7 linked regions of the Homo sapiens genome follow. Changing the gene in region 6 together with the main gene of any one other region gives a genetic interaction. Each region holds a gene or a part of one and is shown on either strand. Other genes may lie near its edges. The genes, in order: ATAD2, TADA1, PTAR1, RAB2A, HTT, FASN and NOSIP.

Region 1 (4,098 bases), on a different chromosome or scaffold from region 6:
GGTCCCAACTACTCAAGAGGCTGAGGCGGGAGAATCGCTTGAACCTGGGAGGAAGAGGTTGTGGTGAGCCGAGATCATGCCATTGCACTCCAGCCTAGGCGACAGAGCAAGACTCTGTCTCAAAAAAGGATTTCCTACATATAAAATCATGGCATTTGTAAATAAAGAGAATTTCACTTTTTCCTTTCTGAGTTCCTTTTGTTTTTCTTGCGTTAACTGCACTTTTGAGCAACAAATGGGAGATAACATTCAACACTGCAATTTCAGCATGGTTTTCAAACTCTACATAGGAATGTAGACATAACACTTCTAAAATCTGTAGAAGACATTTCAGGAAGCACTTTAGTCGTTGTACCTAAAATACATGTACCATATAAAAACATTCCAGTGTCAACAGCACTTTAAATTTTCACAGTAATATATGAAAGAACAGACTTTACACTTCTTTTGCACAGAATTATCTTTGCTATGTTTTAAAATACTTAAGAAATAGAAACAAATTTAAGAGAGTTTTCACCTTTAAAATTTATTACATAAGCTATACACACAAAATGAAATCCTAGTTATAAAAGATGCATCTAGAAGAATAATTTATAATAAACCAACAAAAATGAGAATGTGTATCTCCAGGAATATAAATATATTTAAATGTTCTCAGTGACTGGCATTGCTTTATGCATTACATAAGATAGTATGTACTAATTAAGGTATTGAATTCACTGGGTTTTAGAAGGCTTTAAAAAAAATCCAGATAAATCAACAACAAAAATACAGCTCAACTTTGAACTGCATTAAAATCCAGAATCTCTCATTTTAGATGACCATTCCTTATTCCCCTCAAAAGGTTTCCAACAGAAGCTATTTCACAAACTGATTATTAGAATGTCTTCTCCCCACTCTCCCCAAAAGCAAGTATGCATGGAAGTGCATGCTTTTAACCTTAAGAAATGTATTTTTGGTACCATTAATATAAAATTATAATATTTATATTTATAAAATTGTATATAAAAAGTATCAATAGACTATAACCTAAACAGTTTTAGAAAGATATCAACAGCTTGCAAATATAAAAACCTTGTGCTATTAAAAGGTGTTTAACAAGGTAGTTATTAATACATTTGTTGTGTATATAATTACAAAAGTAAACCAAGAAATATTTAAAATCTTTATTAACCCAAATTAGAATTATAAAAATGTTTGTCTCAAAAACAATGACTGTGATACTCAAGTACAGAATTGTGGTGCAGCCAGAAGTGGTTCAAGAGCCCTCCCGCAAATCATGACTTGCACTCTGGCTTTTAAGTGAAGACGAGGGAATCTCAAGGCAGATGGGAGGAGGGCATTTGAAGAAAACAAAGATGACAAAAAAGATGGGAAGGACACAATGGTTAAGTAAGTTTCTTGTCAGATACAATAAACTATTTTTAGGAAGGATAAAATTAAAAGTGCTTAATACAAACAAAATTTAACGCTGCTAATTATTCTTAAGTGCCATAAAACATTAGTTACCAAAATAACTTTATTAAGAGTTGGCCAAACTTCAACTATTATTACTATTACTACAGGGTCTTGTTCTAGCAAAGTTCCAATATTTATCAGTTATCTTACACATGACATTTATCTTAATATGTACATAAATATCAGGAAAGTTTAAATACTTTTATTTTACTATTTTAATCTTTTCCTTAAAGATGCAGGGTTTCATACTACATCAATTAGGCGGACATGACAAAAATGACTTAAATAGGAACTGAATATAAAGAATACTCGATACCATGACATCATCATCTGGAACAACTGAAGTTTTCTACCTCTTGCTCCATTTTCTAGATAAAGGGGAGGAAGAGCAAATAGTAAGTTTCAATATGGAATAAGCTAAAGAAACATTTCATTACTTTTTCAGTAAACAACCTTAAGAATATTAATATTCAGGTATATATTTGATAGTGAAAATAAACATTCAGTTCAGTATTTAAGACTGCCACATAGATTTTACCTGTAGGACTTCATTATTTAAATAACTTTGAAATGAGTCTGGGGTGCATTCATCTTATGTTAAATTCAAATAGTATTAATCAAGGTACTGATGTAGTTAGAGTTTAGTATTTTACACTTTGTAGGTATCAATATTATATATATACTACATAGTATACTTTAGTAGGTATACTAAATACTATATATATACTAATGGTTATCATTTTTATATTTTGTAGTTACCAATAATATGCATATGTAAGTAATATCTTTTTTTAAAATTTAGCACTCTCTAGTGAAATGATCTGTTATTAAAAATAATAATAAGGCCAGGCATGGTGGCTCCTGCCTGTTAATGCCAGCACTTTGGGAGGCTGAGGCGGGAGGACCGCTTGAAGCTACGAATTTGGGACCATCCTAGGCAACATAGCAAAACCTCCATCTCTACAAAAAATTTAAAAATTAGCCCAGTGTGGTGGTGCTTGCCTATAATCTCAGTTACTTGAGAAGCTGAGGCAGGATTGCCTGAGCTCAGGAGTTCCAGGTTATAGTGAGCTATGTTCTTGCCACTGCACACAGAGAAAGATCCTGTCTCAAAAATAAGTATTAATGCTCTAATTAACACTATAATACCTACTATAAAGGAAGATTAAGTACATAAGTCTTTTTTTTTTTTTTTTGTCATACAGAGTCTTACTCTGTCAGCCAGGCTGGAGTGCAGTAGCTTGATCTTGGCTCACTGCAACCTCTGCCTCCCAGGTTCAAGTGATTCTCATGCCTCAGCCACCCGAGTAGCTAGGACTATGGGTGCACACCACCACATCTGGCTAGTTTTTGTTGTTTTAGTAGACATGGGGTTTCACCATGTTGGCCAGGCTAGTCTTGAACTCCTGGGCTCAAGCAATCCACCCGCCTTGGCTTCCCCAAGTGCTGGGATTACAGGCATGAGCCACTGTGCCTGGCTGACAAGTCTTAAAAGAAGCTATTATTCTTCATTAATACATACACACAAAAGGGGTATTCATAGTTTATGTTCCACTATTTATTAAAGACACAAACTATTGGCTGGGTGCAGTGGCTCACGTTTGTAATTCCAGTACTTTGGGAGGCTGAAGTGGCTGGATGGCTTGAGCTCAGGAGCTCAAGATCGGCGTGGGCAACATAGTGAAACCTCATCTCTACAAAAAACACAAAAATTAGCTGGGCATGATGGCAGGTGCCTGTGGTCCCAGCTACTTGGGAGGCTGAGGCAGGAGGATCGCTTGAACCTTGGAGGTGGAGGCTGCAGTGAGTGAGTTGAGATCGCACCACTGCACTCCAGCCTGGGCGACAGAGACCCTGTCTCTAAATAAATAAATAAATAAACAAACAAACTAATTAAGTTATAGATTGGAAAAATACTAAACTCACTTGCATTTAGAAATAATTCATAATCCACATATTAAAAATGATCTTTATGGAATGGGACATCAACTTTGGAAATAGAAAGATGGTCTTTAAGTTCCTACAATCAGTTTCTTACACAGATTAAATAAAGCCTCAACAATCCTACATAAGTGATATATTAATGTGACCACAAGAGCATTTGTAAAAAGTTTCCACTCAAGAGTTTACCTGAATAAGTGATGTTTTATCATGGTCCTTGCGATGCCGATAAATACATTGGCTGATTACTGCATACAAATTTTCCAACTGAAATATGTTGTAGTTTTGACTTTTTTTAACAACAGTCTTCAAAAGATTCTAAAAGAAAATATGAGTGTCAATATGTGTGAGAGAGAAACTTCCTCAGACAAGATACTTAATTTAGAAGGTTTGGGCAATTATTACAAGCCTGACAGAGGGTAGACCAAGCCATCTGATGACACAGGGCAGCCTCTGGCAGTGGCTCTGACATTTAAATGTACTTAAGTCTAGCTATAATCCTGGCCTTGACCTTGAGTAACTCATATTCTAAAAACTAGAGCTGAGGGGATTGCCAATTCTAAGTCTAGCCATAAGCATCTACAAACAAATTAAAAACTAACCTCAATTTAGATTAACAGGAGAAAAGCAAAGTTTTTTTGCAGGGGATTTTATGATAGTATAAGTACATTTTAACTAATTTTATTATGTGAAACTAAA
Region 2 (4,121 bases), on a different chromosome or scaffold from region 6:
AATAGCAAATAACTCATATCCAGCCTCCGTGCATAACCCTGTATGTTTTGCCTACCACCGAGGACCACACTTAAATAGGTTGTGCAAACCAAAGCAAACTGCTCATGGAGGAAATATAAGAAATGACTGTACAGTACAAGAGTATTACTGACTATTTAACCCAGAGGTACTTTTTAAGGAGAAGGGAAAAGAACAATGAGAGAATGGAAAAACAAATTTAGAACTATACGTTACCATTAACTGTTTCTGGCATAAAAATCTCTTTTGATTGCATTTTAGTGGGGATTCACACTCCAGATGCACCAAATTTAGCTTCAGCATCAGTATTTGACCAACATCAGACAGTCGGCTTTGGCCTTTAAAAACTAAATAAGGAATGCTAACTTCAAAAACACTTTTGGCAGCCCTGAACCTGTAACTGATGAGTATGGGATGACAGAGGTCACCATTGCATCTAATCAGGGTTAAAGGCAATCATACACAAGCCAGGTCCTTCAGATTTATTTTGGTATGTAAACGTTTGCTTTCAAATATTTGTAAGCATTCTAGATGGAACAGAGTGAAATGCCCCTTATGTGCTTAAAAATGTAAATTTTGGCTGGGCGCGGTGGCTCACGTCGGTAATCCCAGCACTTTGGGAGGCCAAGGCGGGTGGCTCACGAGGTCAGGAGTTCAAGACCAGCCTGGCCAAGATGGTGAAACCCCATCTCTACTAAAAATACAAAAATTAGCCGGGCGTGGTGGCAGGTGCCTGTAATCCCAGCTACTCAGGAGGCTGAGGCAGAGAAGTGCTTGAACCCAGGAGGTGGAGGCTGCAGTGAGCGGAGATCATGCCACTGCACCCCAGCCTGGACGACAGAGCAAGACTCCATCTCAAAAAAAAAAAAGGTAAATTTTATCAGTCGGTATTACAAAAGTAAAAAGCTACAGTAATTAGGGTGAAAGCTGTCAATTTTACCTATTAAAATAAGTAAGAATATTTAATTCAATAAGCACAGTGAACATCAATATCGAAAGACAATTTTCGGTGGTACACTATAGTCGGGTGTGGTGGCTCATGCCTGTAATCCCAGAACTTTGGGAGGCCAATGCGGGAGGACTGCTTGAGGCCAGGATTTGAGATCAGCCTGGGCAACACAGCAAGACTTTGTCTCTGAAAAAAAAAACTTTAGCCAGGATTAGCGGGGCGTGCCTACAGTCCCAGTTATAGGCTCACAGCAGGGGAGGATCTCTTGAGCTCAGGAGATCAAGGTTGCTGTGAACTGTGTGATCAGGCCACTGTACTTCGGCCTCTGCCACAGAGCAAGACCCCAACCCCCAAACACAAAGTGAAACATATCTCTGGGCGTAAATAAATGTTCACCAAAAATTAAATAATTATGCTAAAATAACAGTTTAGATTTTAATTTTAATCTTTTTATAGTTTCCATTATTATCTTGTTAGGATGAAAAGTAGACTGTCAACTCTGCCACCCCAAAATTTCACATGAAGGAAAAACTCCAAAATTCATGTATGACATCCAACCTAAGTAATTTCAATCCAGTAATAATAAAGAACAGAGAAGGATGAAAAGAAAGTATTGGAGAAAAATTAAGTATTCCCAAATTGCTCCTCCACCAACATCATTTAAAAGTATGCATCCACTGAGTAATGCAAATGTGTAGAATACCAGAGAAGCCATCTAGCAGCAACAACACAGGCACTGTAATTTTAAACGTTTATATTTGCTTCCTATATTTTTGAAAAATAAAGTTGTAATAACAACGTTTTGAAAATTTCCAAACTCTTCCTTGTATCCCAGAGGTTCCTTTTTTGCTCTTTGGCTTTGGCTTTGACTGGATACTGATTTTACCCTTGGCCATTCTGCACCTAACCTGACTGTGCACTAGGTCCCCTGCCATAACCTGGATGAAGGTCTGGCTGAGCGTCTCTGGGATCCTTTACAGCCCCTCTAATGCATCAGTCGGGAATCAAAAGCGTGGGTCCCAACTCTGACAGTGACTTTTGAAGAGTTACTTGTCCGCACTAGGTCTCAGTCTTCTCATCTGTCAAATGGGAATAACAACTGTACCTATCTCACATCTGTTGTAAGGATTAGATAATATATTTAGAGAGCTTAAAATGTTTAAAATGTCCGCTACTGCTATCATCACTATAATTGTAGTGTTCAATGACTGTGATTTCACCAGAGGGTCCGTCTGCCTTACGAAATTGCTGTCAAAAGAGCTTACCAATAATCCGTAGCAGATCACACCAGCTCAACAGGCCTCCACCTCCAGGAAGCCCTCCAGGGGCGGGCCGCCCTGCGCTATGCCCTCTGGCTGGACGCGTAGGGCTCCGGCTCACTCCGCCCAAGTCAGCCTCCCGCATCCCGCACGCCCGCGCTGGGGCCCGCACCTGCTCAGCAGGCCCTTGGGTGCGAAGTGCGCTTCTCCCGCCCCACCCAGGGCAGACAGTCCCGAGCAACGGCGCCCGCCGATGTCTCCCGGGCGCCCAGGAGGCCCGGTCTCTCCAGGGCGGTGAGTTCAGGTGGCCCGCCCCGCCCCGGCCGGAGAAACCCCGAAGCCCCGCCGCCGCGGACTCCAGGCTGCACAGGCCCCCGGGCGACGCGGGCGTCTCCGGGGCGGGCTGGCAGCCCGAGGCCAGGAGAGCACCCGCGTGTTGGCCTGGACGCTGTGCTAGGGCAGCTCTTACTGTTTCACGTTGTCCCCCAGGGCCTCGCTTAAGTTCTTCTTGGCCGCCTCCAGCTCGCTCACAAAGGTCGCCATTGCTCCGCGTGTCTCAGCCCGACCGCAGACCGCCCGGCCACCGCGATCAACAACCCAAAAACCAACTCGGCGGAAGGCCTTGGCTCTGGAAGCTAAGCCGGCCGCCGTCAGTCCCGCCCCCAATCTCTCAGAAGTCGTTTGTTTGGTTTTCGGCTCCGCCCGCCTTTTCGCAGGGAAGGTGCCCGGCCAAACTCTGCTCTCTTCCTCCCGCCCCTCGAGTCACGTGATCCGCTTCACCTTGTCGCGCGCCCATCCTAAACCCGCGCGCCCCGCCTCGGCTGCAACGTTGCTGACAGGCTGGCGTGTCCCAAGCTCTTTCATTCTGTTACCGCTGGGGCAATTCCGAATTCAGCCTGCTGTTCTTCTGCCTGGAGGAGTACCTTACCCCTCCATTTAAAAAAGTAAATGCAGTATCAGTTTTACTCTTTCCTTGCCTTATTTTTCCCCGAGCACTAACCGTCTCATATGACATTTAGTTGATTTATCTTGTAAATGTTATGGCTCGAGGACAGGAGTTGTGTTTTATTCACTGTTACCCGCAATTCTCTAGAGCAGCGCCTGGCACATAGTGGATGCTTAATAAGTATTTGAGTAAATGAGGTAACTATGTAAAATTTGGAAAATACACAGAAAGATAAAGATAAAAAGAAGGAAAAAGTGTTTTACCACTCCCGGACAAACACTTAACTGAGAGAGATTTCTCCTTCACTTCGCACACTCCCATGACTTAAAATATTCTATGTTCAATTTTGCACGTTTTTAAACTTAAGGATTTATCTGTAGTATTACATTGTCTTTAGAATAATTTTAATGACAACATATTAAATACCCCCACAGATAGAAGGTACACAACTTGTTTCCCAATTGTTAGACTGTGTCCATTTCTTCTCTATTAAAAAGCAATACTGTAATATTGCTTTTGAAGCATATAGCATAATGAAGCAAAACTTCTTTATGCATAAAACTTTTCCTCCTTTAGGATTATTACTTTAGCATAGAGTCCCACACATAGAATTACTGGATCAAATGATGGGAATATTTATAAATGCCTTGGTGTATATTGTCAAATTGCCTCCCAAAGTTTTTTAAATAATCCTAGATAGCTTTTAGATCTTGTGTAATTTCTCCAAAGATGTCCCCTTAAGTTCATTCATTCAACTTCCTCACTGCCCAACCTAAACCCACAAGCCCTGTCCTGGCTGCAATGCCAGCCGGGCACCTTCTCTTCACTTGAATTCATACAGTGAGCTCCTATTATGTGTCTGGAACTCTTTGAGTACTGGAGATACACAGGTGAAAGGAGATACAAAGGTCAGGCAAAGTCTTCCTCTCTGTGTCAAAACTCTGGGTAA
Region 3 (2,993 bases), on a different chromosome or scaffold from region 6:
TAATCATCTGAAGAAATTCTTTGATTTCAGTGACTTACTGATCTGTACCTGTGCACATATCATTTTATGCTTCTCCTTTTTTCCCCGCAACTTGAACTGTGACTCTTTCAGATATTTCTTAAATCTGTATGAGTCATTTTTTAAGCTTAGGGATTTGATATGTATTAATGTCCCCTTTGTCTTCTGTAGATTTTAGCATTTTATTACCTCTTAAGAAACTCTGGGCCCAGACTTTCAGTCATATTTCTTATTCCTATGGTACAGTTCTCACTTAAAGGCTTAATTATTAGTAGGGTTAAATATATACAGGTTATCTCTAAAAGTACTTAAATTTTTAAATAAGGGCTTATGTGATACAAGATACGGAAACAAAAGTTTTTGGATTTTTATGCAGTAGTTTGCAGGAAAGCAAATACATAGTAGATCGTATGCCACTTAGGTATGTTCAGGTCATGCCAGTTTATTCTTGTTGGGCCACACACACATGTATGTGTGTGTAAAAGGAATTTTTAGTATTGAAGCAAACAAATTGTCAGTTTAATAATTTTCTCTTACATAGCACAAGATGGCAGATACCACCTACTGTACAACAATCTAATAATCCCTACCTTAGTTCCCCTGAGTTATAGAAGATGCTAAAGATTTAGTTGTAAAGGGAAGTAACATGATTTTTTTTTTCTAAAAAGCTGTTTTAAGCTAACTATTATTTTGCTACTGGAAAATTATATTTTAAAACTTACAGATATTTAAAGTATGCTAGAAAATTTGAACCTGATAACAACTGAACCTTTTGTCTTGAATAAATTTCTCAAATAGAACTGTGCAAACCCTAGCACTTTATGTGTTGCTGCCTCCCCATACCTAGGTATGCTCTGTAATAAGCTCCCATTTAATGGAGAGATGTGTGGAGGCACTGAGAAGTTAATGAAGAAAAATCAACCCTAAGAATTCCTTATTGTCACATAGTGTCTTTTAAAAAATAACTGTAGAGACTGTGTTAATTCGAGTGCCTTTCTTACTTTTTTGGGAGCAAGATTATATTTAATGTTTAAGAAAACAGGATGGAAGTTTTATCAAACAGTTGATTGTGGCCCATTGTTTTATTTATTCCCATCGCTAGGCATGGCCCCGTAGGGTATTTTATCCTTCAGTGAGAGACTGATATAAGCAGGCAGGATGCTTTGATTATTCCATTAGTTATCATTTTAAGCACCCTACCAAGATTTAGTTCTTTCTTTCTGGCAACTAACGTTTTGGGGGTTGGAGGCATCCCATTTAGAGGATGGTGTGTGCACAAATAGATTAGCCTGAAACCTGCGTCCAAAGGGAAACAGTGGCACTCTGCCCTAAAATAAAGGCCAGAACGTTGTCCTAAATGAATCCTTTGCCTTACTTTAGGACCTTCCTTCCCTCTCAAATTCAGGCATAATGTAATATAGTTGAAAGGGGGAAAACAGTACTTGCTTTCTCTCAGGTATTGGAGGAAAAGAAGTAAATGCGTAGATGAAATTTTAAATGTATCATTTTATCTGTTTGTATATGGAGAAGGGAGGGATAGGAATTCCATATTTCAAGATAGCAAATATAATTTCATAGAAATATATAGCTAAAGATTCCAAAGTGCTTTTACAGAGAACTGTTGAATAATATATTCCTAAAGGGCAGCAATATGCCATGTTCATGGTGAAGACAGAAAACCAATGAATCAGTTGTGGATCTCAGGTGGGAGAGGAAACCTCAGGCTCCCAACTTTGACTTCTCTACTCTCACCAGGCCATGTTAACACTGTAAAACCAAACTCTTTGCTAAGAACAATACAGGGCAGTAGTTTAGTCTGCTGATGAAACCTTGTGCTTCCAAGAATATTAGCTATATATAATTTGTGCTTTCTGGATGATTCTATTGTCCAGAAAGCTAACCCTGACGTTACTTTTATTAGTCTGTTGTTATTCCTCAGGGTGTAGAAGATTTAGTAAATTCAGGACAAATTTTATATTCAGTGGCAAAAAGAAAAGGCAAAAATATGCTAAATATATTATTAGCTCTTAAATTTTAGTATAGATCGTATTTTTTATAAACTATTACCAGTACAGTAGCTAGTAGATATTCTGTGACTGCCTCATTGTTTATCTTGCTGCTTTGGTCCCTATGGCTCTAGTATGAACATTCTCGTGTCTTCTGTGGAAATGATTTCTGTGTTATAGTTCCATCTTTGGTAGAGGTGGGGATGATTGTATTTTGTTTTAGTTGACATCATTCTCAACTTTTAGAAATACTGTTGAGGAAAATGATTACCGTTGGTTTTCAAATTGACAACTATTTTGCTTCCAAAGACTTCAGTTTCCCTTTGTTTTATGTGTAGACCTCATATATGTTCAACACATTGCATACTGCCTTGCACATTGTAGGAATTCAACAAGTCAAGAGTTGATAAAAGCTAGAAAGATAAAACTAGCTTAGCTATCATATCATCATTGTCCATATTCTTAGCTTTGGGAAAAATATACCATTTTGCATAAAATACATAATCAGTTTCAAATGCATAAGGCAAAGATATACAGTTGCACAACATTGCAAGTGAAATTTACAAAGGATTTTTATTTTTGTGTATGCTAAAAGTGCTCCTACTTAAAGCAGTTTTCTTTATTAGACCAACACCTTCCAGCAAAGTTAGAAACCAAACACAAGTGCTCATTTGCCCAAATTAACCAGATAGTTATGTAAACTGTTCATATTAAGTCTTTAGTGGTTTACAAACAATAACATTCTGGCTTTTCTTCCATACCTTTTAGGAATCAGCCTTAATTTTAAGTATAGCAGTCACTTTCCTCAAGGTACTATGCAGCATACTTTAGATTGCTTATTTATCATTATAAGGTGATAGGTAATAAATTTGAGGTTTACTTGTCATATAATTTCATATGGCAGATATTGATTCAAGGAGCATTCTATTAGAAAAAGTTGATAAATTATCCTCCCTTACAAATATCATC
Region 4 (3,500 bases), on a different chromosome or scaffold from region 6:
GTAAAAGTGTTCCTATTTCTCTACATCCTCTCCACCATCTGTTGTTTCCTCACTTTTATTTTTTTTGAGACAGAGTCTCACTCTGTCGCCGAGGCTGGAGTGCAATGGTGTGATCTTGGCTCACTGCAAGCTCCGCCTCCTGGGTTCATGCCATTCTCCTGCCTCAGCCTCCCAAGTAGCTGGGACTACAGGCGCCTGCCACCACGCCTGGCTAATTTTTTATATTTTTAATACAGATGGGGTTTCACCCTGTTAGCCAGGATGGTCTCATCTCCTGACCTTGTGATCCGCCCACCTCAGCCTCCCAAAGTGCTGGGATTACAGGCATGAGCCACCGCGCCCGGCCGTTTCCTCACTTTTTAATGATTGCCATTCTAACTGGCATGAGATGGTATCTCATTGTGGTTTTGATTTGCATTTCTCTAATGACCAGTAATAATGAGTTTTCATATGTTTGTTGGCCGCATAAATGTCTTCTTTTGAAAAGTGTCTGTTCATATCCTTCGCCCACTTTTTGATGGGGTTGTTTTTTTCTTGTAAATTTGTTTAAGTTCTTTGTAGATTCTGGATATTAGCCCTTTTGTCAGATGGATAGATTGCAAAATTTTTCTCCCATTCTGTAGGTTGCCTGTTCACTCTGATGATAGTTTCTTTTGGTGTGCAGAAGTTCTTCAGTTTAATTAGATCCCATTTGTCAATTTTGGCTTTTGTTACCATTGCTTTTGGTGTTTTAGTCATGAAGTCTTTGCCCATGCCTATGTCCTGAATGGTATTGTCTAGGTTTTCTTCCAGGGTTTTTATGGTTTTAGGTCTTATGTTTAAATCTCTAATCCATCTTGAGTTAATTTTTGTATAACGTATAAGGAAGAGACTTCTTCTTTTCTATTGTGTGCATTTAATGATATACATTTCCCTCTCGTAACACTGTTTTAGCTATTTTCCACAAATTGGTATGTTGTATTTTCATTCAGTTCAATGTGTTTTTTGTAATTCAAGACTTGCTCACTGACACACAGAAGCGTACTGTTTAGTTTCCAAGTATTTGTAGATTTTCCTATTTTCTGTTAAACTGATTTCTAGTTTAATTCCATTTTGTTTGGAGAATACATTCCGTATGATTTCAATACTTTAAAATCTATTGAGGTTTATTTTATGGCCCAGGACACGGTCTATCTTGGTATATATTCTGTGAGCACCTAAGGGATGCTGAAGTCTCCAACCGTAATTGTGAATTTCTCTATTTCTCCTCGCAGTCTATCAGTTTTTGCTTCACATATCTGGTACACGCATGTTTAGCACTGTCACATCTTTCTGGAGGGCTGATTCTTTTATCATTATATAATGTCCCACTCTGATAATTTTTTTCTGCCCTTAAGTTTATGTGATATTAATATAGCTACTCCTGTTTTCCTTTGATTAATATTTGTATAACTTTTCCTATCATTTTATTTTCAACCTAACTGTACTGTTGTATTTGGAGTGAGTTTCTTATAAATACCATATAGCTAAGTCATTGTTTTTAAAATTCTCTCTGCTAATCCCTTTTGATTTGTGTATTTTGACCACCAACATTTAGTTATTGATATATGAGGGCTTACATCTGACATTTTACTTTGTTTTCTATTTTCCTTCTCCTGCCTTCCTGTGGGCTAATCAAATCCCTTTATTCCCCATGGCTTATAATATTGTGGAATACACTGATAATCACATCAGACAGTGGTTACTTGTTTATACTTCAAACATCAAACATAATTTGCAAGACTTGAAGAAAAAAGTCTATCATATTTATCCATATTTTTGTTTCTTATGTTTTTTTCTTCCTTTATGGTGTTCTAAGATTCTTTCTTCAATCATTTCACTTCTATTAGAAAACTTCCTTTAGCCATTCTTTTATGCAAATCTGCTACTAATAAATTCTTGGTTTTTCCTTCTCTAAGAATGTCTTGATTGCACCTTCATTGCTAATTCTTTTTTTTCTTTGCTGGGTAAAGAATTCTGGGCTGATAGTTCTTTTCTTTCTGCTCTTGCAAAACACTGTGCTACGTATGTTTATTGTGGCAGTATTCACAATAGCAAAGACTTGGAACCAACCCAAATGTCCATCAATGGTAGACTGGATTAAGAAAATGTGGCACATATACACCATGGAATACTATGCAGCCATAAAAAAGTTGAGTTCATGTCCTTTGCAGAGACATGGATGAAGCTGGAAACCATAATTCTCAGCAAACTATCACAAGGACAGAAAACCAAACACCGCATGTTCTCACTCATAGGTGGGAACTGAACAATGAGAACACTTGGACACAGGGCAGGGAACATCACACACCGGGGCCTGTTGGGGGTTGAAGGGCTGGGGGAGGGATAGCATTAGGAGAAATACCCAATGTAAATGATTACTTGGTGGGTGCAGCAAACCAACATGGCACATATATACCTAGGTAACAAACCTGCTCGTTGTGCACATGTAACCTAGAACTTAAAGTATAATAAAAACAAACAAACAAACAAAAATCACTGTGCTATTTTCTCTGTCCTCCATGGTTTCTGATGAGAAATCTGCTATCATTAGAACTGTTTTTCCCCTATACGTAGGGTGCTATTTTTTGCTGCTTTCAAGATTTTTTTTTCTGTCTTTCACGTTCAGAAATTTGACCATACAGAGGTTCGTCATCATGTGGATTTGTCTGGGTTTAACCTCTTTGGGGCTGTCTTCAATCTGTAGGTTTATATACTTTTTGCCACATTTAAGAAGTTTTCAGCCATTATTTCTTTGAGTATTTTTCAGAGCCATTCCTTTTTCCTCTCCTTCTAGGACTTATGATGCATCATATAACGTCAGCTTTTGTTACAGTCCTATAAGTCCCTGAGGTAGTGTTCATTTGTTTCCTCAATTTTCTCTCTGCAGTTTAGACTAAGTAGTTACTATTGTTCTATCATCCAGTTCACTATTTCTTTCCTTTATCTCCATTCTGCTGTTGAGTCCATTCACTAAGTTTTTTTTTCTAGTGTACAAAGAGCTTTGAAAGAGTTTTAAAATTTCAATTATTGTATTTTTTTTTATTTTAAAATTCCTATTTGGTTCTTTTTTTTATCTTGCATTTCTTTTGCTCAGATTGTTTGTTTGCTAAGACTCTTCTGTTTCAAGCATGTTCCTTGTTTGTTGAGGCATTTTAATGATTGCTGCATTAAAATCTTTGTAAGATAATTCAAACACCACTGTCATTTCACTGTTGGCACCTATTATCTTTTTTTCATTCAATTTAAGATCTTCCTGGTTCTAGGTATGATGAATGATTTTCTATTGAAACATGGGTATTTTAGATACTATGTTATGAGACTCTGGGTCTTATTTAAACCACTGTTTAGTTGGCTTCCTCTCACTCCACTCCAACAAGGGAAATGGTGGTGGTAGGGTGCTACTTCATTACTGCCTGGGGATTGTGGAAGCAGAGCCACAATTTTTTCTGTGATGTTTGGCTACAGTAGAATGGTTACTT
Region 5 (3,500 bases), on a different chromosome or scaffold from region 6:
AGTAAGGGCAGACTAGAAAAAAATACAAGAAACAGTCAGATCGGACACACGAGTAACGGCAAGTTTGCAGATGTTTCCATGTTTCTATCGGTGACCATGTCAAGACCATACTTACGGAGGAAAAAGCCAGCCACCTGTTTTGCTTGGCCTGCTAAATTTTCAATATAAATCAATATCAGGGTTTCTCTTCCCAATACCTGTAAATTTGCAGCCAGAAGCATTTCTACCCGGCGACAAGCAAGGATGTCGACCATGCGAGCCAGCACACGGAAAGGGGTGCACAGAAGCCTGTCCACATACAGCGTGAGCACAGCTCCCGACTGGCTGAGATGGATCCCCTCCAAGCACTGAAGAGTTTTCTTCAGCATGGTTGGCTAACAGCAAGAAGGAAAAGAACAAAAGATGACTATTTTGCAAATCAGAAATTAAAGTTAAAAATTTCAATACTCCATTTTTAAGGCAGGGAAAACTGCAACTGGCAATAGTCGGCAGGATGAAGACGTACAGTTGAAAGGTTTTCACAACGAGACTGAATTGCCTGGATGAACAGGCCGCTGGCAGCAGAGTTCCGATGAACGGCACTGATGAAGTCCTGTACTGGAGGCTCGTGGGAAAGGCTGATCAGATCTTGAATGTGATTTACAATGAGCCACGTTAAGTGCTCGGAGTCATGGAGGTTCTGACACTAAGGAAAAATATGATGAGAGATTCATTTTCAAGTACACAAGAAGAGACCAGGTATTAATGCCATAGAAAGGCCAGAAAGGGTAAGAAGGAGAAAACACATCCCAAATATAAACCTCACTAAAAATATACAGTGTATGAGCACAAATAATTGAGGAGGTAGGAAACTCGATTTACCAAGGCCGTCACCTCCAACCACGCACTGCGGCAGAGGCTGTGTGAAGTTAGGCCCCCTGGGGAAGTAGGGTACAGCAGTCCAGCTCTCAGAGACACTAACAAATGGCCAAGGGTCAAAGGACAAAGGCAGGCCTCAGCGAGATCCGCAGGTAGCAGGGGCAGCGTTGCGCTGGGATGACCCCATCCACAGCACTGCCTGCCCTCTCCCGGGCTTCGGGCCGGCTAAGCCAGTGGGGTTCTCCAATTACTCTTTTTCCAATTTTGTGATAGTTCAGTGGGAAAAAAAGAATCCCCTATCACTGCCACAGTTTTGACAGAACTGTTGAATCCAAAATATGAATGGATCCCACATATCAAATAAATCTTAAGTGTAGATATTTAAGATTTATAAGAAAATAAAAATATATATTTTTAAACATGCAGAGCCTTTTCATCTTGATTCATAATCCTAGGCAGAAACTGTAAAATGTGATCAATTCCTTGATATTTGGTTAACGATTAATATTTTTCATTTGGGATCATCTGACAGTACAGGTTGAATAACCCTTATCTGAAATGTTTGGGATCAGAAGTATTCTGAATTTAGGATTTTTTTCAGGTTTTGAAATATGTGCATTATACTTATTTGTTGAGCTCCCTAAATCCGAAAATCTGAAACCTTCCAATGAACATTTCCTTTGAACATAATGTCAGCACTCAAAAAGCTTCAGAATTTGGAGCATTTTGGATTTCAGATTTTTGGATTTGGGATGATCAAACTTTATTAACTTATAAAATTAGTATCTTTTTTCTTATATTTCTGTGAAAAACAGCATTATAAATTATATTATCCTTAAAAGTAGAACAAAATAGAAAAACTACTTCAATAGAGAAAGTAAAGCAAAAAGTGACTATTAATAAATTGTCATCACCAGAAAAAGTCTCTAGGATAACACCTCTTTCAGTTGGAGAGTCGGCTTCCTTTTCTGATTCAGAATATTTAACACTGTTTTGCTATGTGACAGTAGTATCTATAAGATACCATGTTTGTGACAAAGAAATGCATATGTTTTAAATATTTTTAATATAAATATAGAAAAAGTATTAAATCTAGACCAAAATCTAACAGCAAGTTATCTCTGAGTAGTATGATTACAGGAGGTTTTATTTTCCTCCGTTTATTTGTTTTTTTGTAAATTCTCCATGGTAAATATGTGATGCTAGTTTTATGGTTAAAAACTCCCACAAGTTATTTTTTTTTCTTTAAAGAGAACGGCATTTAAACAGGAATCCATCATAAAATGTGACAAAGAACATCTAACACCTTTTCTACAAATTAACTTAAAAAAATTATTTTAGAGCAGGGGTCTCGCCTTGTCACCCAGGCCGGAGTGCAGTGACACAGTCACAGCTCACTGCAGCCTCAAACTTCTGGGCTCAAGCAATCCTCCCTTCTCAGTCTCTCAGGTGGCTGGGACCACAGGCATGCACCACCACGCCAGGCTAATTTTTCTTTCTTCCTCTCTTTCTTTTTTTGGTAGAGGCAGGGTTTCTCTGTGTTGCCAGGCTGGTCTCGAACTCCCAGGCTCAAGCCATCCTCCGCCCTCAGCTTCTCAAAGAGCTGTGATTACAGGCACGAGCCACCACACTTGGATAATTTTTTATTTTTTATTTTTTTAGAGATGGGTGTCTCACACCATAGCCCAGGCTTGTCTCAAACTCCTGGGCTCAAGTGATCTTCCTACCTCAGCCTCTCGAGTTGCTGGAATTTAGGCATAAGCCACTGCTCCTGGTATTAATTTTTAAAAAAATTTAAAATCAGAACCCCACTACAGTCAATGCACTTACTTTGTTTTTTAAATCATTAGTTATTATTATTCCATTGCTTCCCTCAAATTAACAAACATACCCAGCATCATGTAGGCGTGAGCCAATAGCCGGGCATTTGATAAATGAGTCAGCTGCAAAAACTCTCACAGTCCAACTTAGAATCCAGTGACTGGAAGGCCAGGCCTGGTCTCCAATTATATGTCACAGCAGAAGTAAACATTCATTCTAGATTTAGTTTCGATGGAGCTTGGCAGGACACCGGGCGGTCTGGGTTCCAGAGGGTCCATGCAAGTGTCATCTACACAGGATGTTCTCCTGGTCCCCACCTCCCTCAACCCCGTTTACAGGCATTTCAAACTTACGACATAATCACAGAAGAGAATGAGAGCCCCTCTTCGTACTATTTCTCTATTGCACATTCCAAGTTTGGCTGCCAAGTCAGAATCCTCCTCTTCTCCAGACATCTGGGGACTAAGTAACTTTGTGCTGGACAGACTGTGTCTTCTAGAAGGAGCAACAGATGCATTGACAATGTTTCTGGATGGCAGTGAGCTTATTTGCAAAATACTGAAGATGATTATGTTTAATTCTAGTTCTAAAACAGACAAGTTGTTTTAAATATTGCCATATCAGAATGTTGTATGTGTAATATATACTCTCAGTTATCTATTCCTAAGCTACAATAAACCACATATGAAAAACTAAAGAAAACAGAATTTAACAGGCAGAAAATTAAAATGCTTGCCTGAATAGCAAAATCCACCATAAAGCTGCACATTCAATCAGCACCTTTATTTCAGAACTCACACTGGCTATGTTTGATAATTGAG
Region 6 (3,500 bases):
GGCTGCTGCGGGGCCTTCGGGTGCAGTCTCCCGGGAGGGGCAGGGCAGTGTCGGGGGCTCACCCTCCTCCAGCAGGAAGTGGCGGAAAGCCCCCCAGGCCCCGTCGCGGTAGACGTTCATCACCAGGTCTCCCTGCAACACCTTCTGCAGTTCTGCGGAGCCCGGGTCCACCTCCGGGACGTGGGAGGTGCTGCTGAGGTTGGAGAGCAGCACACACCTGGGGGCAGAGGCGGGGAGCTCAGGCTGGGGATGGGGAGGCTGGTGGGGAAGGGGAAGTGGTGAGGGGCCGTGCTCCTACCGGAGGCGGTTCCCGCCGGGCTCTCGGCGGAGACAGTTCACCAAGCCCACCACGCCCGAGGTGGCACAGTTGATGGCCTTCAGCCACACAGGCCGGGAAGAGTCTTCGTCAGCCAGGATGCCCTACAGCGGGTCGGGGAGGGTCAGGCCACACTCGGCAAGTTGGGAGGTGGGGTGGGGCCTGGAGGTGGGGCAGGGCCTGACCTTCAGAGACTCCACCCAGCGGAAGCTGGTATCGTCCACCGGCAGGAAGATGGGGCTGTCCTGCGGGGTGGGCCGGCGGCACAGGAAGAGCGTGGAGCCGTAGAAGGACTTCTTCAGGCCCACCAGGCGCAGCGACACCCTGGAGAAGAGGCTCTCCCACGCGTCCTGTGGGGGCGGTGGTCAGCACCCTGCCCGCCTGGCCCTCACCCGGCCCCCACCCTGTCCCCCTGCCCGGCGGCCGCACCTGGCTCAGGATGCCCTGGCCATACTGCGGCTCAGTGGAGGTGAGGAAGGCCACGATGTCCCCGAGGGGGTGCCCCCGGAGCAGTGTGTGCAGGAGCAGAAAGCCCCCTTCTCTCAGGGCAGCCACCATGTTGCTGAGAGCTGAGGCCGGGTCCCCGAGGGCAGCCACAGCACAGTTGCACACCAGGAGGTCGGCGCTGCCCAGGGCGCTGGGGGCAGGGTCTGCGGGATCCCACTGGCCCTGGGCAACGTCGTGCTGCTGCAGCTCGGCCTGGGCAGCCTCCAGGGCCTGGGGGTGGCGGTCGGTGGCCGTGTAGCTCAGCTGCAGCAGGGGATGGGGGCTGAGCAGGCCTGGGATGCGGGAATACAGGTGACCGTGGCCAGCCAGCACCTGTAGGGGGTGAATTCTGGAATCAGCCCCACACCAGGCAGGTGCCCCTGACCTGGGGCTGGGCAAAATGTCCATGAGGCCTCAGTCTGGCAGAAAGGCTTCCCCGTCAACCTGATGACGGTGCCAGCCATGGGCACGCATGGATGCCACTGGTCTTGTCCCTGGGGTCCTGCCTAGGCTGCACCTCTTGGAGCCCACGGGCGGACCCTCCACGGTGGCTGTGTGGACCGCACAGGACACGTGCACAGAACCACACAGGGAACTGGCCGGCCCCACCCACCGCCCAGGGCCCGCCCCGTGTCTGTGCTGTCTCCTGCAACTGATGTCAGGGTGGGTCCTACCATGTCCGGGGCAGAGGCCTGGCTGCCCAGGAGGCACCCACCTCCACCACCTTCATCTTCAGGCTGGGCATGTTCTCCACGGCAGTGTCCAGGCAGGCCTTGAGTGCCGGGGAGTCCAGGAGGCCGCTGAGCAGAGGGTCCTCTGGCAGCTTGGGCCTCTCCTGGGCCAGCACCTGCGCCAGCTCCAGCTGCAGGTTCCCGTTGAGCTGAAGCCTGCAGGCAGCCGACAACAGCCGGGGCAGTTCCTGCTGTGAGGGGTCCCGGGGGATCTGGGCCCCATCCAGTCCGGGCACCACCATCTTCAGCCCCTGCTGGGTCACCTTGGTCTGCAGTGCCTGCACCAGCCCTGGGGAGGGAGGGAGGCAGGCCTGGTGTTCCCAAAGCCCCAGGGCATCTGCCTGGCATGGGCTCTCAGACCCACTCTGTCCTTCTGGGGCCACCACCCCGCTCTGCCCACAGGATGAGAAATAGCTGAGGGTTGAGGAAGGGGCTGCCCACCACTGGGAGGCTGACTCCTGCCCACTGTGGACGCAGTGAGGGGCCGCATTCAGCTGCAGGGGCTACTCTGTGCCTAGCCAAGGTGTGACCTTAGGCTGAATCTGTCATCTTTGCCCCCAAGTACCCTTTCAAGACTGAGGAACAGTGACCAGGGACGAGGAAGGCTGGGGGCTGGGGGAGGGAGGGAGGCCGCCATCGTGAGCTCCGGCCGGAGGGTTGGGCTAGGGTTGCTGACCCCAAAGGGGGCCCCGTGGAGAAGCAAGTCTGGGGTCAACGTGAGGGGAGGCGATCGCTCCTCATCGCCAGAGGTGTCCGAAGCCAGCAGGGCTGGGACCTCACCCTTGCACAGTTGCAGCTCCTCCTGCAGGGCAGCGCGCTCAGACAGGCACCCCTCCTCCGTGTGGGGAGTGAAGCAAAACTTCTCCAGGATGGGCACCTGCTGCTCCTGCTGCCGCCGCGGGGCCGACTCAGTGTGGAGCCCGGAGATGTGGACGCCTCCGGCCACTGTGACCCTCAGCCACCTGCTCACCACCACGTCAGCCACTGTGGGGACAGGCTGGGTGAGTGCGGCATACTTGGGTGGGGGCACTGGGCTGGGGCTGGGGCGGGGCTACCTTGGGCCTTGTCCTGCAGTGTGTACAGCTTCTGCCTGTGGGTGGCAGGGTCGATGTGGATGGCGGTGACACGGGTGGGCAGGTACAGGCCGTGCTTGGCCGAGCCCAGGATGGACATCTGCAGCATGGTGTCCATGAAGCTCACCCAGTTATCCTTCCACAGCAGCCTCCCCGAGTCACCTGCACACAGGGCCTGGTTGGTGCTGTGGAACTCCCAGGTCCCTGGGGCCACCTCCCAGAGCCCACCGGGCCCCTCTGCTCCCTCCCAAGCTGCATGCCTAGCTGTGGGTGCCCTCTGTGGTCCCCACAATGACGACCGCCCTCCCCGGTGGCTTGGGCAGCAGTGTAGTCAGTACCCACCTTCCAGGCTGGCCTCCAGGATGCCCTGGAAATGAGGGCCGTAGTCGTAGCCACGCAGACGCAGCTCCTTGTAAACTTCAGCCTGGGCCAGGAAGAGGGGCTCCGTGGGGTTGGGGGTGGGGCTTTCCGGGTGGTCGAAGAGCCTGGGGTCAGGGTCATCCCACTGGTACACCTTCCCTGTGGAAAGGGAGGTGCGGAAGGGCCTGAGGACGGGCGGCATGGCCAGCGGGCACAGCCTCCGCAGCTCCCGTGCCACCGGCCCTGCTTACCACTCACTACCAGGTTGCCGTTCTCTGACACCTCGAAGGCACGGGAGGCCTCCAGGAGCCGTACCTCCAGGGACACTGTCCCTGCAGAGCGGGAGAGTTGGAGATCAGAGGGCAGCACCCGCCCCCCAGCTACCCCCGCCTTGGTCCTGGGGTACCCCTCACCAGTCTTGGGCAGGATGGTGGCCTGGTGCAGCACCACATCCTCAAACACCACAGGCAGCTGCTCGACGCCCAGGCCCAGGGCGCGGGCCAGCGTCTTCCACACTATGCTCAGGTAGCCAGT
Region 7 (3,500 bases), on a different chromosome or scaffold from region 6:
ATGTGCCCCCTGAGGCAGCCAGGGCTGCTTGCAGAAGGGCGACCTTGATCAAACACCCCAACTTGACCCAGGGTCCCCTCCACATGCCAGGCTCCTCCTCCGACTTCCCCCTGACCCCCAAGCTTCTCAGTGAACGTCCAACACCTGTTGCCTCCCCTCACCTGCCATCCGCTCCCCAGCCCCCACAACTGCCACTCATGAAGGTCACGGTGACCTTTTCATGGACACATTCCCCACTCTATTCTTAGTTGTCAACTCCCTTGACCCTCTGCAGTATTTGGCTCTGGGCACCTCGGCTTTCCCAGAGATGAGCTTGCTTGCTGTTTTGTGGCCAAGAACTGAGGTTTCTACATAGATGGGGACATTTTCCCTCCAAAAATAGGAGGAACACCTATAGAGGGAGCATTTAAACTTTTTTTAATTTAATTTGTTTTTTTTGAGATGGAGTCTTGCTCTGTTGCCGAAGCTGGAGTGCAGTGGTGTGATCTCGGCTCACTGCAACCTCCACCTCCTGGGTTCAAGCAATTCTCCTGCCTCAGACTCCCAAGTAGCTGAGATAACAGGCGCCCACGCCCAGCTAATTTTTTTTTTTTTTTTTTTGTATTTTTTAGTAGAGACAGGGTTTCACCATGTTGGCCAGGCTAGTTCTGAACTCCTGATCTCAAGTGATCCGCCCACCTCAGCCTCCCAAAGTGCAAGGATTACGGGCATGAACCACTGCACCCGGCAAACTCTTTGATTTTTAAAACTCAGTGATTTTTAAGATCCTGAGACCAGAAAGCGTGAGCGCCTCCAACCAAGGGTGGAAGAATAGCCAGTTTCAGGATTTACAAACTCTGAAAGCTGAGCTCTCCTGCCCCACACTATATTGTCTCTTTGGTAGGTCCAATTTCAAACTACAAAGCAGACTGCTGCCATCTGCTGTCACCAGCATTTCAGAGAGGAAACAGGCAAAGAGCAGGAGCGACCGATGTCAGCATAATCCCTACCTCACAGCACAGGAAACAGGCTCACAGCATGTCCCAGCTGGGAAATGGCAGAGCTGGGACTCAGACCCAGGCAGCCAGGCTCTGGAGCCATTCCTTTTAACTAGGTGACAACTGTCAGTTTTCCTAGGAAAGTCACAATCTCAGAAAAAAGGCCAATCAGGCTGGCCACGGTGGCTTAAACCTGTAATGCCAGCACTCTGGGAGGCTGAGACGGGTGGATCACAAGGTCAAGATGTTGAGACCATCCAGGCCAACATGGTGAAACCCCATCTCTACTAAAAATACAAAAATTAGCTGGGTGTGTTGGTGCGCGCCTGTGGTCCCAGCTGCTCGGGAGGCTGAGGCAGAAGAATCGCTTGAACCCAGGAGGTGGAGGTTGCAGTGAGCCCAGATCGCACCACTGCACTTCAGCCTGGCGACAGAGTGAGACTCTGTCTCAAAAAAAAAAAAAAAAAAAAGCCAATCCATTCCTTTATTTGTAGCCTTTGAAATCCAGAATGTATTTTACTCTTTCAGCACATCTCAGTAATTTCAGTAATTCAGATGCTAAATTTTCTTTTTTTTTTCTTTTTTTTTTGAGATGGAGTTTCGCTTTTATCACCTAGGGTGGAGTGCAGTGGTGTGATCTCGGCTCACTGCAACCTTCACCTCCCCGATTCAAGTGATTCTCCTGCCTCAGCCTTCCAGGTAGCTGGGATTACAGGCACCCGCCACCATGCCTGGCTAATTTTTTGTATTTTTAGTAGAGATGGGGTTTCGCCATGTTGGGCAGGCTGGTCTCGAACTCCTGACCTCAGGTGATCCACCCGCCTCAGCCTCCCAAAGTGCTAGGATTACAAGCATGAGTCACTGCACCCAGCCTTTTTTTTTTTTTTTTTTTTTTGAGACAGAGTCTCGCTCTGTTGCCCAGTCTGGAGTGCAAAATAGTGCAATCTTGGCTCACTGCAACCTCCACCTCCAGGGCTCAAGCCATTCTCCTGCCTCAGCCTCCCAAGTAACTGGAATTCCAGGCGTGTGCCACCATGCCCAGCTCATTTTTGTATTTTTATATTTGTATTTTTAGCACAGATGGGGTTTCACCACATTGGCCTGGCCATCAGATGCTAAATTTTCATTGGAGATACTTTAAAATATATATATATATATGGCTGGGAGCAGTGGCTCACGCCTGTAATCCCAGCACTTTGGGAGCCCAAGGCGGGCAGATCACCTGAGGTCAGGAGTTCAAGACCAGCCTGGCCAATGTGGCGAAACCCTGTCTCTACTAAAAATGCAAAAATTGGCTGGGTGTGGTGGCAGGTGCCTGTAGTCCCAGCTACTCGGGAGGCTGAGGCAGGAGAATCGCTTGAACCTGGGGGCAGAGGTTGCAGTGAGCCAAGATCGGGCCACTGCACTCCAGCCTGGCCAACAGATCAAGACTGTGTCTCAAAAAAAAAAAAAAAAAAAAAGCCCGGCTCTGAAGCAGACCCTGGCTCTAAGCATTTTACTGAATATCATAACACCTCAAACGGTCGAATATCACAACACTCCACTGAATATCACAGCACCTCAAATAGTTGCTATAAATGAAGAGAGGCACAGAGGCGGTGCCCTAGGTTATGCAGCTAGTGAGTCCTACAGCTGTGTTTGATCCAAGCACCTGTGGCTTTGACCATCCACTGTGCCAGCTGGCTGCAGGCGGCCTCAGGCACTGTGCTGAACTCTGGGAGTGGATCAGACAGCTAGTGTGTGTCTTGTCCTCCCCTGAAATCCTGTCTCCTTTCTCCTCCAGAGCACTGCCAAGGTTTGCCTCCTCCAAGAAGCCTGCCTCTCCGGGATCAGTTAGGTTCTCCTTGCACTTGACCGTGCCCTGAGCTACCTCCGTTACAGCCCGTCCCTCGGTATTTCGGCTCCAGAGTAGGGGCCCTGGTTGGTGGGGCCTGGGTTGAACTTCAGCCTGGGTCCCAGCATTGCCTGGCACCTGGGAGGTCTCAGAGATGTCATGATAGAATCAATGAACCACCTCCAATCCTAGGGCCAGGGGAGGTGGGTTAGCAATGAACTAACCATGCAGCCATGACATCATGCCATTAATACACTAATAATTCATTAGTAACATGTGAATCACAGAAGCACTGGAAGAACAGAAGTAATCATCACATCCTTCAACCCCTTAAGAATCAGACCTTGTGGGAAGCACTTTCCACATGTGAACACATTCGGTCCTCATGACAACCTCCCCACGTTCTGCCCATTTATTTTATTTTATGTATGTATGTATGTATGTATGTATTTATTTTGGAGACAGTCTCACTGTCACCAGGACTGAAGTATTTTTTTTTTTTTTTTTTTGGAGACGGAGTCTCACTCTGTCACCCGGACTGGAGTGCAGTGGCACGATCTTGACTCACTGCAACCTCCACCTCCCAGGTTCAAGTGATTCTCCTGCCTCAGCCTCCCAAGTAGCTGGGATTACAAGCACACACCACCATGCCTAGATACTTTTTTTGTATTTTTAGTAGAGACGGGGTT

What was found.
Region 1: changes in FASN (region 6) and ATAD2 together harm fitness more than expected from each alone (negative genetic interaction), as found in Homo sapiens cells (one large-scale study listed by BioGRID).
Region 2: changes in FASN (region 6) and TADA1 together harm fitness less than expected from each alone (positive genetic interaction), as found in Homo sapiens cells (one large-scale study listed by BioGRID).
Region 3: changes in FASN (region 6) and PTAR1 together harm fitness more than expected from each alone (negative genetic interaction), as found in Homo sapiens cells (one large-scale study listed by BioGRID).
Region 4: changes in FASN (region 6) and RAB2A together harm fitness more than expected from each alone (negative genetic interaction), as found in Homo sapiens cells (one large-scale study listed by BioGRID).
Region 5: changes in FASN (region 6) and HTT together harm fitness less than expected from each alone (positive genetic interaction), as found in Homo sapiens cells (one large-scale study listed by BioGRID).
Region 7: changes in FASN (region 6) and NOSIP together harm fitness more than expected from each alone (negative genetic interaction), as found in Homo sapiens cells (one large-scale study listed by BioGRID).

Annotation. Positions count from the first base shown.
Region 1 is NC_000008.11:123,319,350-123,323,447, forward strand, and holds the end of ATAD2 (ATPase family AAA domain-containing protein 2), read right to left. Parts: intron 3,718-4,098; coding exon 3,589-3,717; intron 1,827-3,588; coding exon 1,785-1,826; 3' UTR 501-1,784; downstream 1-500. UniProt on the Homo sapiens protein: May be a transcriptional coactivator of the nuclear receptor ESR1 required to induce the expression of a subset of estradiol target genes, such as CCND1, MYC and E2F1.
Region 2 is NC_000001.11:166,873,465-166,877,585, forward strand, and holds the start of TADA1 (transcriptional adapter 1), read right to left. Parts: upstream 2,801-4,121; 5' UTR 2,770-2,800; coding exon 2,696-2,769; intron 1-2,695. UniProt on the Homo sapiens protein: Probably involved in transcriptional regulation.
Region 3 is NC_000009.12:69,712,019-69,715,011, reverse strand, and holds part of PTAR1 (protein prenyltransferase alpha subunit repeat-containing protein 1), read left to right. Parts: 3' UTR 1-2,993.
Region 4 is NC_000008.11:60,593,487-60,596,986, reverse strand, and holds part of RAB2A (ras-related protein Rab-2A), read right to left. Parts: intron 1-3,500.
Region 5 is NC_000004.12:3,203,681-3,207,180, reverse strand, and holds part of HTT (huntingtin), read right to left. Parts: intron 3,175-3,500; coding exon 3,033-3,174; intron 686-3,032; coding exon 506-685; intron 375-505; coding exon 198-374; intron 1-197.
Region 6 is NC_000017.11:82,084,737-82,088,236, forward strand, and holds part of FASN (fatty acid synthase), read right to left. Parts: coding exon 3,380-3,500; intron 3,299-3,379; coding exon 3,218-3,298; intron 3,126-3,217; coding exon 2,949-3,125; intron 2,769-2,948; coding exon 2,589-2,768; intron 2,518-2,588; coding exon 2,314-2,517; intron 1,823-2,313; coding exon 1,518-1,822; intron 1,136-1,517; coding exon 746-1,135; intron 667-745; coding exon 502-666; intron 421-501; coding exon 299-420; intron 218-298; coding exon 63-217; intron 1-62. UniProt on the Homo sapiens protein: Fatty acid synthetase is a multifunctional enzyme that catalyzes the de novo biosynthesis of long-chain saturated fatty acids starting from acetyl-CoA and malonyl-CoA in the presence of NADPH.
Region 7 is NC_000019.10:49,570,557-49,574,056, forward strand, and holds part of NOSIP (nitric oxide synthase-interacting protein), read right to left. Parts: intron 1-3,500. UniProt on the Homo sapiens protein: E3 ubiquitin-protein ligase that is essential for proper development of the forebrain, the eye, and the face. Catalyzes monoubiquitination of serine/threonine-protein phosphatase 2A (PP2A) catalytic subunit PPP2CA/PPP2CB.